2 separate regions of the Homo sapiens genome follow, and region 1 is linked to region 2. A link means that fine-mapping ties the variant in region 2 to the expression of a gene that starts in the linked region. Tissue or cell type: whole blood. Region 2 holds a variant in brackets; the other region holds the start of a gene. All regions are shown on one strand. Distances are from middle to middle.

Region 1 (5,000 bases), 81 kb before region 2:
GTTTGGCTGTGTCCCCACCCAAATCTCATCTTGAATTGTAGCTCCCATAATCCCTACATGTCATGGGAGGGACCTGGAGGGAGGTAATTGAATCATGGGGGTGGGTTTTTCCCATGCTGTTCTCATGATAGTGAATAAGTCTCACAAGATCTGATGGTTTAATAAAGGGCAGTTCCCCTGCACATGCACTCTTGCCTGCCACCATATAGCCACCATATAAGACGTGACTTTGCTCCTCTTTTGCCTTCTACCATGATTGTGAGGCCTACCCAGCCATGTGGAGCTTTGAGTCCATTAAATCTCTTTTTCTTTATAAATTACCCAGTCTTGGGTATTTCTTCATAGCAGTATGAAATTAATACACATACCATGACATTTGTCAGTGGGAAGCCATGGGCAGTGCACTGACCATTTCTCAGGTGAGGAATAGAGCCAGGGAAGCCACTGGTTTTCATTAGACAAAGTGAACTGGGCACTTGAGAGCCTGACATGGCTCCCTGGACCTCCTGGAGCCATTCTCTCCAAGGCTGGAGACCCAGTGAACTCTCCTGGGAGGTGAGGTTCCTCTGTGACAATGTCTGACCTGACAGCAAATGACACCAGTCTAACCATTGGTGGATAATATGGCCTGCAGAGCCAGATGGCCTGGATTGGATTTTGTCTTTGCCAACCGTCTAACCCCGGGGCAGTACTTAACCCCTCTTGGCCTCAGTGTCTCCATCTGTAAAACAGGGAGAATAACAGTCTCTGGCCTAAAGGGTAACTGGGAGGATTAAATGAATTAAAGAATTTAAAACACTTAGAATAGCTCCTGGCACACAGAAAGCACTATGTACTCAGCTATTATTGTTATTATTATCATCCATGGGTGTTTGAACTTTTTGGAGGGAAGGAATGCACCTGCCACTCAATGTCCTCCTTCATTTTCACTCTGTGCTCCCTGTGGTATCATCACCCAAAGTGAAACTGACCATCACAGTCAGGGTCCTCTGTAAAACAAGTGGGAAAGGGAATATAACCGTAACTGCAATGTTAATCAGCTCATATTAAGGATTTTCCACATGCCAGACCCTGCGTGAAGCACTTTATATGTTAGCACGTGTTAGACCTTCACAACAACCCCAATAGGCATGTGCGATGAAAAAGATCTCCATTTTGCAGACGTTGAGGACATGTGGCTCACGAAAGTGAACTTGCCCACGTTGACAAAAGGATCTCGGCGTCAGTTCCAAGAGCTGCCACCAGGTGACAGTGCCCATCCACTTTCCAATTGCGCAGTCTGGCGGGAACACACTTTGGGTCGTCCCGCAAACATTTAATGAGCGCCTACTGTGCCTGGAACTGTTCTGGGCTCTGAGGATCCATGCAAATAAACCAGGAGTGGGGCGAAAAACTGCCATTATGGTTCTTCCTTTCCATTTTCCCTTGAATATAATAAAAGGTATCCCAGAGATGCGTGCCCAAGGGGGATGTGGCCTAACCGGACCGGAACTGGGAGGCTGGCAGGGAGGGATGGGAGTATCTGGAAGGGCCACGGTCCCCAAAGATCAGGGGCTGCCACTATTCCCAGAAGGAGGTGTTCTGCATCTCCCCTTCCTGCAGCCCCCGGGAGAGGGGAGCAGGGGTCCGTCCTATCCCTTTTGGTCTTATGTGGCTGGGATGGTTGCGGCGACGGGGGTAGAGATTGGGGGGCGCACCGCGGAGGGAGAAAGGAAATCTCACCCTGAGAATCTGGAGTGCAGGGAAGGGATGCTGCTCAAAGGTCTGTTTCTGGCTTTGGCGGGGGGCCACCTGAGACTGCCAGGGTTTGATGGTCTGAAGGTCACCCAGGGAACCAGCCCCATATGGGGTGCCGGAGCGCAGCTCCCAGGCCTGGTCGAAGCAATGCGACCTCGGAGAGGCCTGAGGACTAGGACGGGGTGAGGGGGACTCAGAGACGGCTGCCCCGGACCCCTCCTTCAAGCAGGTCCCACGGCCGCCCAGCGGACACGCGTCCGGGCTGTGCCCTGACCGTCTGCGGAGCGCACGGCCAGTGGCCCGGGCCGCTGAGTGTGTGAGCCCTGAAGGGCAGTGGACATGTGCGTACGTGGGTGATGTGTGCGGTAGGGGTGGTGGCGATCCTGCGTAGGGACCCACGTGAGGGGTGCACCGACTGGACGTGTGTGTTTCGAGGGGCCAAGGAAGCGGGTGTTGGTCCCAGTGTGCGTAAACGGACAACGACATCTGGGAGTTGGGCAGTGAGGAGAGAGAAGAGTGTGTCCAGGAGGAACCTGCCTGGAGGAGGCCTAGCGGTGTGTGTGCGCCTAGGTGTATACCGGGGCGTTGGTGACTTCGAGAGGCACCGGGCGGGATCGATCCTCTCTGCGTCCTGGACCTGGTGCTGGTGTGTTTCGGGGAAGTTACTGCTTATGAACCCCCCTTGGAGCGTGGCCTGGGGGCAGGAAGGCTTCCGCGCTGGGACCCCTGGGTCGCGATACCTCCCTCGGTAAGTGTATTGGCTAGGGGAGTGTTCCCGCAAATGGATCTACCCTGGGGAGTTGCCCGGCTCGTCTGGACTGCTTACGGGCGCACTGACGTTGTGGGGGGAATGTCCCCGAATTGGGGGCACGAGGTCGGGGGAATCGTCTCTGAGATCCGGGCTAGAAGCTACGAGCTTGGGCTCCGGGGGTGCATGCAGACGGCGCCTAGCCCCGCGCGGAACCGCCGGCGGGACCGGGGGTGGGGCTCGGAGGCCCGGGGGCGGGGCCGGCCGGGGGCGGGGGCGGGGGCGGGGCCGCGGCCGCTGCAGCAGCGCGGGCCGGGCCAGGGGGCGCCTCGCGCGGCAGCGACTCTGGCAGGCGCTGCAGTGAAGCTGGACCCGCAGGCGGGCGTGCGTGGAGCGGGGGCCGCGGCCGCGCCGCAGAGATGTGACTCGGGCCGAAGGCCAGCTGGAGCGTCGGCGCTGCGGGGCCGCGGGGGTCGGTAAGTGCGAGCTGCGCCGATGCAGTGGAGGACGCTGTGGGGACCCCAGAAACTTTTCCCGCCGTGGATTTGGGAGAATTGGGGGGTCCGCTTCTTGTGTTTTTCTAAGCGCCCCCCCAACCCAAGCCAGGGAGTTTATTGCTGGGGGAGATGTGGAATCTGGGCGAGGGGAACCACGGTGCGACGAGAGCAGAGCCGTAGAGGGGTGGGCGGGGGAGGGGAGGATCTGGGGACCTTTACGGGGGGAGGGAGACTGTGCCCGGACCAGGTAGAGATCCAAGTCTCCCAGGAGGGTGTGGGGGCGACCACAGGTGAAGGGCAGCTGGGAGGGTAAAGGAGCCCAGCCGTGTCCTAGTGACTCGTCATGTGTGAGGAGCTGCGGGCTGGTCCTGGGGCCGCGTTGGGGGCTGACTGTGGACAGGGCAGACGCAGCCGGGGGCACAAGGGCTGGACTTTGGGGGTGAACAGCCGCACCTGTCGCGGGGGCTGGGGGTCAAGCCCGCAGCCGGCTTGAGTGCGCATTACTCAGCAAGGGGAGGGGGGGACACGGCGGTGGGAGATGGCAGAGCTGAGACCTGGGCTGGGGACGAATGACGGGGAGGGGTGGGGAGGAGGGGGCGGCTGCATACAATGGCGGGGGGGGCAGTGGCGTTTCCCTTCCAGACAGGGGGCACTTGGACCTCTGGAAGAGGCGGCTAGGCTGGAGATAAGGACTAGACCTGTTCTCGGTCCCCTCTCCTTGGGGGACACAGGCTTCCAGCCCCACAAGGACCCCACACATCCCGGGGTCCCTAGCGCTTAGGCCGAAAAGGGAGCGCGCGGGAGGAGCCCGCACCCGCCTTGGCCCCGGGCAGCCGGTTGAACAGCCTGGGAAGGGGCCAACGACCTTGCCCCAGAAATCTCCCCCGTGCAGCGGGTTCACTCCTCCGTCCTTGCTCTGTCACACCCAGGCCTAGCCAGTCCTCCCTTTCCGTCCCCCGTTCGCTAAGGGGGCGGCTCCTTGGAGCGCGGACAAAGGCCCCTGGAGTGTGGCGGGCAGCGGCGTCCCCGCCTGGGGCCCCAGCCCACGCGCCACATTGGCCGCCCAACTGCACCAGGCCGGGGGGCACCTGAACAGAGCCCAGAAAGCCCTGGGGGACCCCGCAAAGACAAGAGAAGTGGGGGAGGGATCTGGCACAAAAACCCCGGCACTTCAGCCAAGGAACCTTCTTAATTCAGAAGTTTCTTCGGTGGGGACTCGGGCTTGCGGAGGATCCAGGCTTTGAGTTAAACTGCATGCAAATGACATGTAAATAGAATGCAAATTGGCATCTGTCGTTTGGAAGCCCTCCCGGCCAGTTTGGTATCTAAGACTGTGGAGTGAACAGTTTGCTATCTGCTCCCTGCTCTAAGCCTGGAAAGGGGTCAGCTGAGTTGGGAAGGGAAGGAGATTCCAGGAGGAAGGAGCCGCCATTTGGGGGCACAGGCAGCAAGACAGGCAGTTTTGTTAGAAAGATAAACTCAGAATCTTTACTGGATTAATATGTTATTTCAAGAAACGTGCCAGGGACAGAACTGGGTGCCTTGTATAAAACGGACAAAACCCCTGCTCTCCCGGGGCTGGGGAAGTGAGTGGACAAACATTAAACAAACCCATAGCAAATGGCTATGAAATCCGATTGGGGTGAGGACGGCCAGGAAAATAAGATGGGGTGATGTAAAAGAAGGTGACAGGGGTGTATGTACCTGAGATGACTGTTCCGGGAGTGACATTTGAGTGGAGCCCAGCTAGAAGAGGGGCCCTCCGCTGGGAGGTCTTGGAGGAAGACTGAACCAGGAGGAAGGCACTGTGCCTGCAAAAGCTTGGAGGTGGGAATGAGCTTAGAGGAACTGAACAAAGGCCATTGTGGCTGGAGCTGTAGGCAGATTTGGGGGTGGGGATAGGGGAATGGTAGGGACCAGCCAGATCATGATCTTTTGGGTCATGGAAAGGAGTTTAGGGTTTATTCTGTTTGGACCAGTGAACCCTTGGAGGGTTTTGAGTGGGAGGCCATGGGATC
Region 2 (5,277 bases):
GATCCCAGAGGGAGAGAACAAGTGAGCACAAGACTGCTGTGTCTTTAATAACCTAATCTTGGATGTGGCACACCATTATTTCTGCCATATTCTACTGCCACACATATTAACCCTGATACAATGTGGGAAGAGACTCCCCAGTAATGGGAATCCCAGGGGGTGGGGGTTATTGGGGAGTCACTGTGGATGCTGACTACAGTTTCCTGATGAAAACTCAGATCATGTCATTCTTCTGCCCATCATTTCTTATCAGTCAGAATAAAATCCAAAGTTCCAGCATCCAAATGAAAGCTCACCTTTGATTCTACAAGATCTGTCCCCTGACTGCTTCCTCATCTCCTCTCCCATTCACCTCTAGCTCACTGCTTTATTTTTTCTTTTTTTGGGGGGTGGGGGGGTGGGGAGTGGTTTGAGACAGGGTCTTGCTCTGTCACCCAGGCTGGAATGCAGTGGCATGATCTCAGCTCACTGCAAGCTCTGCCTCCCGGGCTCAAGCCATCCTCCACCTCGGGTTCCCAAGTAGCTAGGACTACAGGTGTGTGCCACCACACTCAGCTATTTTTTTTTTGTATTTTTTGTAGTGAGTTCATTTCACCATGTTGCCCAGGCTAGTCTCAAACTCCTGTACTCAAGTGATTTGCCCGCCTCAGCCTCCCAAAGTGCTGAAATTACAGGTGTGAGCCACTGAGCCTGGCCTCACTTTTATTTTCTAATATATATATAATGTATTTTTTAGACAGAGAGTCTCGCTCTGTCACCCAGGCTGGAGTATAGTGGTGCAATCATAGCTCACTGTAGCCTCAACCTCCTGGGCTCAAGCCATCCCCTCACTTTAGCCTCCATTAGCCTCTACCACCATGCCCAGCTCCAGCTCACTTACACACTGACTCTCTTGCTGGTCCTCAATACATCCAGCACCCTCCTGCTCCTGCAGGCCTTTGCATGTGCTTTTCCTTCTGCCTAGAATGAACTTCATTCAGGTCTCAGATCAAATAACACCTTCTCAGAGAGGCCTTCCTTGACCAAATTCACCATCTAAAATAGTAGCCGAGATGTCTTTTCAGGCTTTTGCATTTCTGACTACCGGATGGCCTCACCCAGACCTGTGCTGTGACTCAACCAGTCCTGTGGCTCCCCACCCAGAAGTAGACTCAGCACATGAGGACTGCTTTCCACACCCCTATGAGTTCATCCCCAACCAATCAGCAGCACCCATTCCCTAGCCCCCCCACCCCACCAAACTATCTTTGAAAAACCTCTAGCCTCCGAGCCTTTGGGGATATTGATTTGAGTAATAACTCTGTCTCCCATGTGGCATGGCTGGCCTCGTGTCAATTAAACTCTTTCTTTACTGCAATGCCTGGTTTCTATGAATTGCTTTTGTTTGTACAGCACACAGGAAGAACCCATGGTGTGGTTATAAGATGTAAATGTATATTGTGAGCTGCTGAGTTTTGGAGTTTGGGGGTGATTTGTTATGCAGCATTATTGTGACAATAGCTAACTGACACACTCTTTGACATTATGTTACTATGCATTTATTTGTATCTGTTTACAGTCTCCTGAAAGAATGCAAGCTCCATGAGGGCAGGGACTTTGTCTCCTTCCCTGCAGGTTGCCTAGCATCCAGAACAATGCCTGCCTGCCACATTGTAAGCACTCAATAATTACTAGTGAGTGAATATTAGCAAATGAATCCATCTCATTGTAGCACCTGCTTGCTTAACTATGATGCTATATTGCCTTCAAATCAGACCCCAAATTGCAAAGGATCAAAAAATAATTGTCTTGCACAGGAGATCTAGGCAGCATACTATTTACCAGGAAAATGTGACTCATACACCAAGCTGCTGGCCATTCTCTGTGCCAGATGCCATCTCTCTTCACCTGGGCCATATCTGAAGTCAGCCAGAAACGACAACCAACCCCTGCCTGAGAACGGAAGTGCTCCTTTAAATGACACTGGCTCACCTGGTTGGCTGGCTGTCCCCGGAGGAAAGCCAGAGACAGGGCTAATGAGCTCACACAAAGGGAGGAAATGCACCCCCACCCCCCTTCCTGGAACAGCTGCAGCAGGAGA[C/T]GCCCCTCTCTGGAAAGGAGGAAGAGGAAGCTGGGGAAAGCAGACCAACAATGTGGGGAAGCCACATACTCAAGAGAAAGCAGAAGGAAAAAAGAATCTGGCGCTTAAACAACGATTGTTGGAACTTTACGATGAAATATAATACAAATCAAGACCAACTCCTAAAGGTTTCTTTGGTCCTGCCATCTCAGGGCTCACCCTGGGTTGAAAGTATTGTGAATGAGAAATGTTTGGCTAAATGCCAGCCCATCAGCCACACTGGTATTGTGTTTTTCTTTAAATACAAATACTGGCCAGGTGCAGTGGCTCACACCTGTAATCCCAACACTTTGGGAGGCGGAGGGAGTGGATCGCTTGAGCTCAGGAGTTTCAGACCAGGCAACATGGCAAGACTCGTCTCTAAAAAAATACAAAAATCAGCTGGTGTAGTAGCTCACAGCTGTGGTCCCAGCTACTTGGGAGGCTGAACTGGGAGGGCTGTTTGAGCCTGGGAGGTGGAGGTTGCAGTAGGGTGAGATTGCACCACTGCACTCCAGCCTAGGTGACAAAGTGAGACCCTGTCTCAAAATACAACAACAACAAAAAAAACCACCACACACACACATACACACAACAAACCTTTTACCTCTGTTTAGGAAATAGAACCTCAAGTACTTTTTTATTTTATTTTTTTTTTGAGATGAAGTCTCCCTCTGTCACCCAGGCTGGAGTGCAGTGGTGTGATCTCAACTCACTGCAACCTCTGTCTCCCAGGTTCAAGTGATTCTCCTGCCTCAGCCTCCCAAGTACAGGCATCCACTACCATGCCCAGCTAATTTTTTTTTTGTATTTTTAGTAGAGACAGGGTTTCACCATATTGGCCAAGCTGGTCTGGAACTCCTGATCTCGTGATCCACCTGCCTCGGCTTCCCAAAGTGCTGGGATTACAGGCGTGAGCCGCCGCACCTGGCAAAGAACCTCCAGTACTTTTCAAATAGGAAAGTCACTGATATATAATCACCTCCATACTGACACCATTCATTTCTGCATCTACAGTTTACAGAACACTATCTCCTGTGTTGTTACATTTAGAGACTGGGCACGGTGGCCCACATTTGTCATCCCAGCACTTTGGGGGGCCAAGGTGAGAGAATCACTTAAGGCCAGGAGTTCGAGACTAGCTTGGGCAACATAGTGAGACCCCCATCTCTACAAAAAAAATTAGCTGTTTGTGGTGGTGTACAACTGTAGCCCTATCTACTTGGGAGGCTGAACTGGGAGAATCGTTTGAACTCATGAGTTCAAGTCCGTAGTGAGCTATGATTGCACCACTGCACTTCAGCCTGTACAGCAAACTAAGACCTTGTCTCTGAAAATAAAAAATAAAACATTTTAATTCCATGATAACTTGGTGAGCTAGACTGGGCAGCTATTATTATTCTTCATCTAAAAAGAAAAAAAGTTGTGATTTATCATTCAGTGATTTCTCCTGAATCATAAAACTGGTAGGTAGCAAAGTCAATTCCAATACATCAGTGGGTCTCAATCCTGGCTGCATGTTAGAGTCACCTGGGAGCTATTAAACAATACCCATCTCTGGCTGGATGCTGTGGCTCACACCTGCAATTCCAGCACCTCGGGAGGCTGAGGTGGGCGTATCACTTGAGGGCAGGAGTTTGAGACCAGCTTGGCCAACATGGTGAGACCCTGTCTTTACTAAAAATGCAAAAATTAGCCGGGTGCAGTGGCGTGCGCCTGTAATCCCAGCTACTCCGGAGGCTGAGGCAGGAGAATTGCTTGAACCTGGGAGGTGGAGGTTGCAGTGAGCTGAAATCATTCCACTGCACTCCAGCCTGGGTGACAGAGTGAGACTCTGTCTCAAAAAACAAAAAAACAAACAAACAAAACAAAACAAAACAAAAAAGCCAACAATAGCAAACCTATCTCTTGTTCTCACTGTGACCAGTTGAACAAGAATCTCAGGGGAATAAGACCCCAGGTATCAGAAATTAAAAACAAAATCTGTCAGTGGATGGCTTTGATGAACAGTGAAGCTCGAGACCATCACAATCCATAGGTTCAAATAAACGAGTCTTACGTAAAAGTCGTATGTGTTTATTCCTCAGCAGAGTTAAGAACCCCTTCCTTCATGTTTCTCCTCTTGCTGGGTTCTACAGTGGAATACTGTTCAGCAATAAAAAGGAAGGGACTACGCACACACCCAAACACGTGGGACAACAGCAAACGCATGGAGCCAAGTGAAGGAAGCCAGACTCGAAGGCTACATGATGTATGACTCCATTTATGTAACATGCTGGAAAAGGCAAAAGTATAGGAGCAGAAAACAAATCAGTGATTTCCAAGGTGAGATGGGAGCCTGCTTTGTGCCTTTGAAGAACTTAAAGGAGGGCATTAGTTGGCTTTTTAAAAAGAACCCCTATTCAGGAAAATAGAGCCAACAGCTGCAACAACAATAACAACAACAGCCAATATTTCTTGTGGATTTACTATGTCCTTGGCACTGTGCCATGTTCCTTATGTGGACTGAAGCATCTGATTCGATCTTCATAGGCAGGAATTATTACTCCCATTTTACAAACAGAAAACTGTGGCTCAGAAGTTACATAATCTGCCCATGGTTATTAAAACCCATTTATGCCTAGTGTTCCATTATTGGAACGCTAAGCACGTGGGAGTTATTTATATCCTACTGCTCAAAGTCGTCACCAAAGTCTGGTTGCAAAAATTCAAAAAATTACAATCTCAGGCATAAATGGGTTAATAACCTGACACGTTGGGATTCAAACAGGTCTGTCTGCTGCTAGAGCCCACATTATTAACAAATTGCCATAGGGCATGTTTTACCTGGAAAAAAAAAATAAGTCTTTGTCTTCAGCCACAACATTGAAGACAAGAAAGTTAAGGCCAGTAATGAGAACTTCAAGTGACCTTTCAGAAAAAATAAAACCTGTCGTGCTTAATAGCCCAGCCAGCTGCCCGACTTGGAGAAACCTCTCTCCCTCTCAGTGCTGAGCCTTAAGTTGTAATTTCCGCTTTTTGTAGAAAAATATGGGAGGAACTACAAAACCTTTTATTTGTATTGTTTAAAGGTCCTTTCCATACGTGTTTGGTTTTTATCCTGAGCTGTTTTCATCATCTATTTTCTATCTAACTATGTAGGCCAGATCTTCTCTAAATAGAAAGGAGTGGTTTTTCAG

The links. PIP is the estimated chance that this variant, and not a neighbour inherited with it, causes the effect.
Region 1: it holds the start of GPRC5B, and the variant in region 2 is fine-mapped to the expression of GPRC5B in whole blood (TOPMed, PIP 0.99).

The regions. Positions count from the first base shown.
Region 1 is chr16:19,882,688-19,887,687 of GRCh38, reverse strand. It overlaps GPRC5B (G protein-coupled receptor class C group 5 member B), which reads left to right and starts at 2,840. Exons shown (of 4, transcript NM_016235.3): 1 at 2,840-2,961. RefSeq lists a silencer at 2,287-2,581 and enhancers at 4,097-4,827, 4,828-5,000.
Region 2 is chr16:19,801,823-19,807,099 of GRCh38, reverse strand. All of the region lies in intron 7 of IQCK (IQ motif containing K), which reads right to left. Among named protein-coding and RNA genes, the nearest start is that of IQCK-AS1, 38 kb to the right of the region's middle. The variant C/T (reference allele first, on the strand shown) is at 2,081.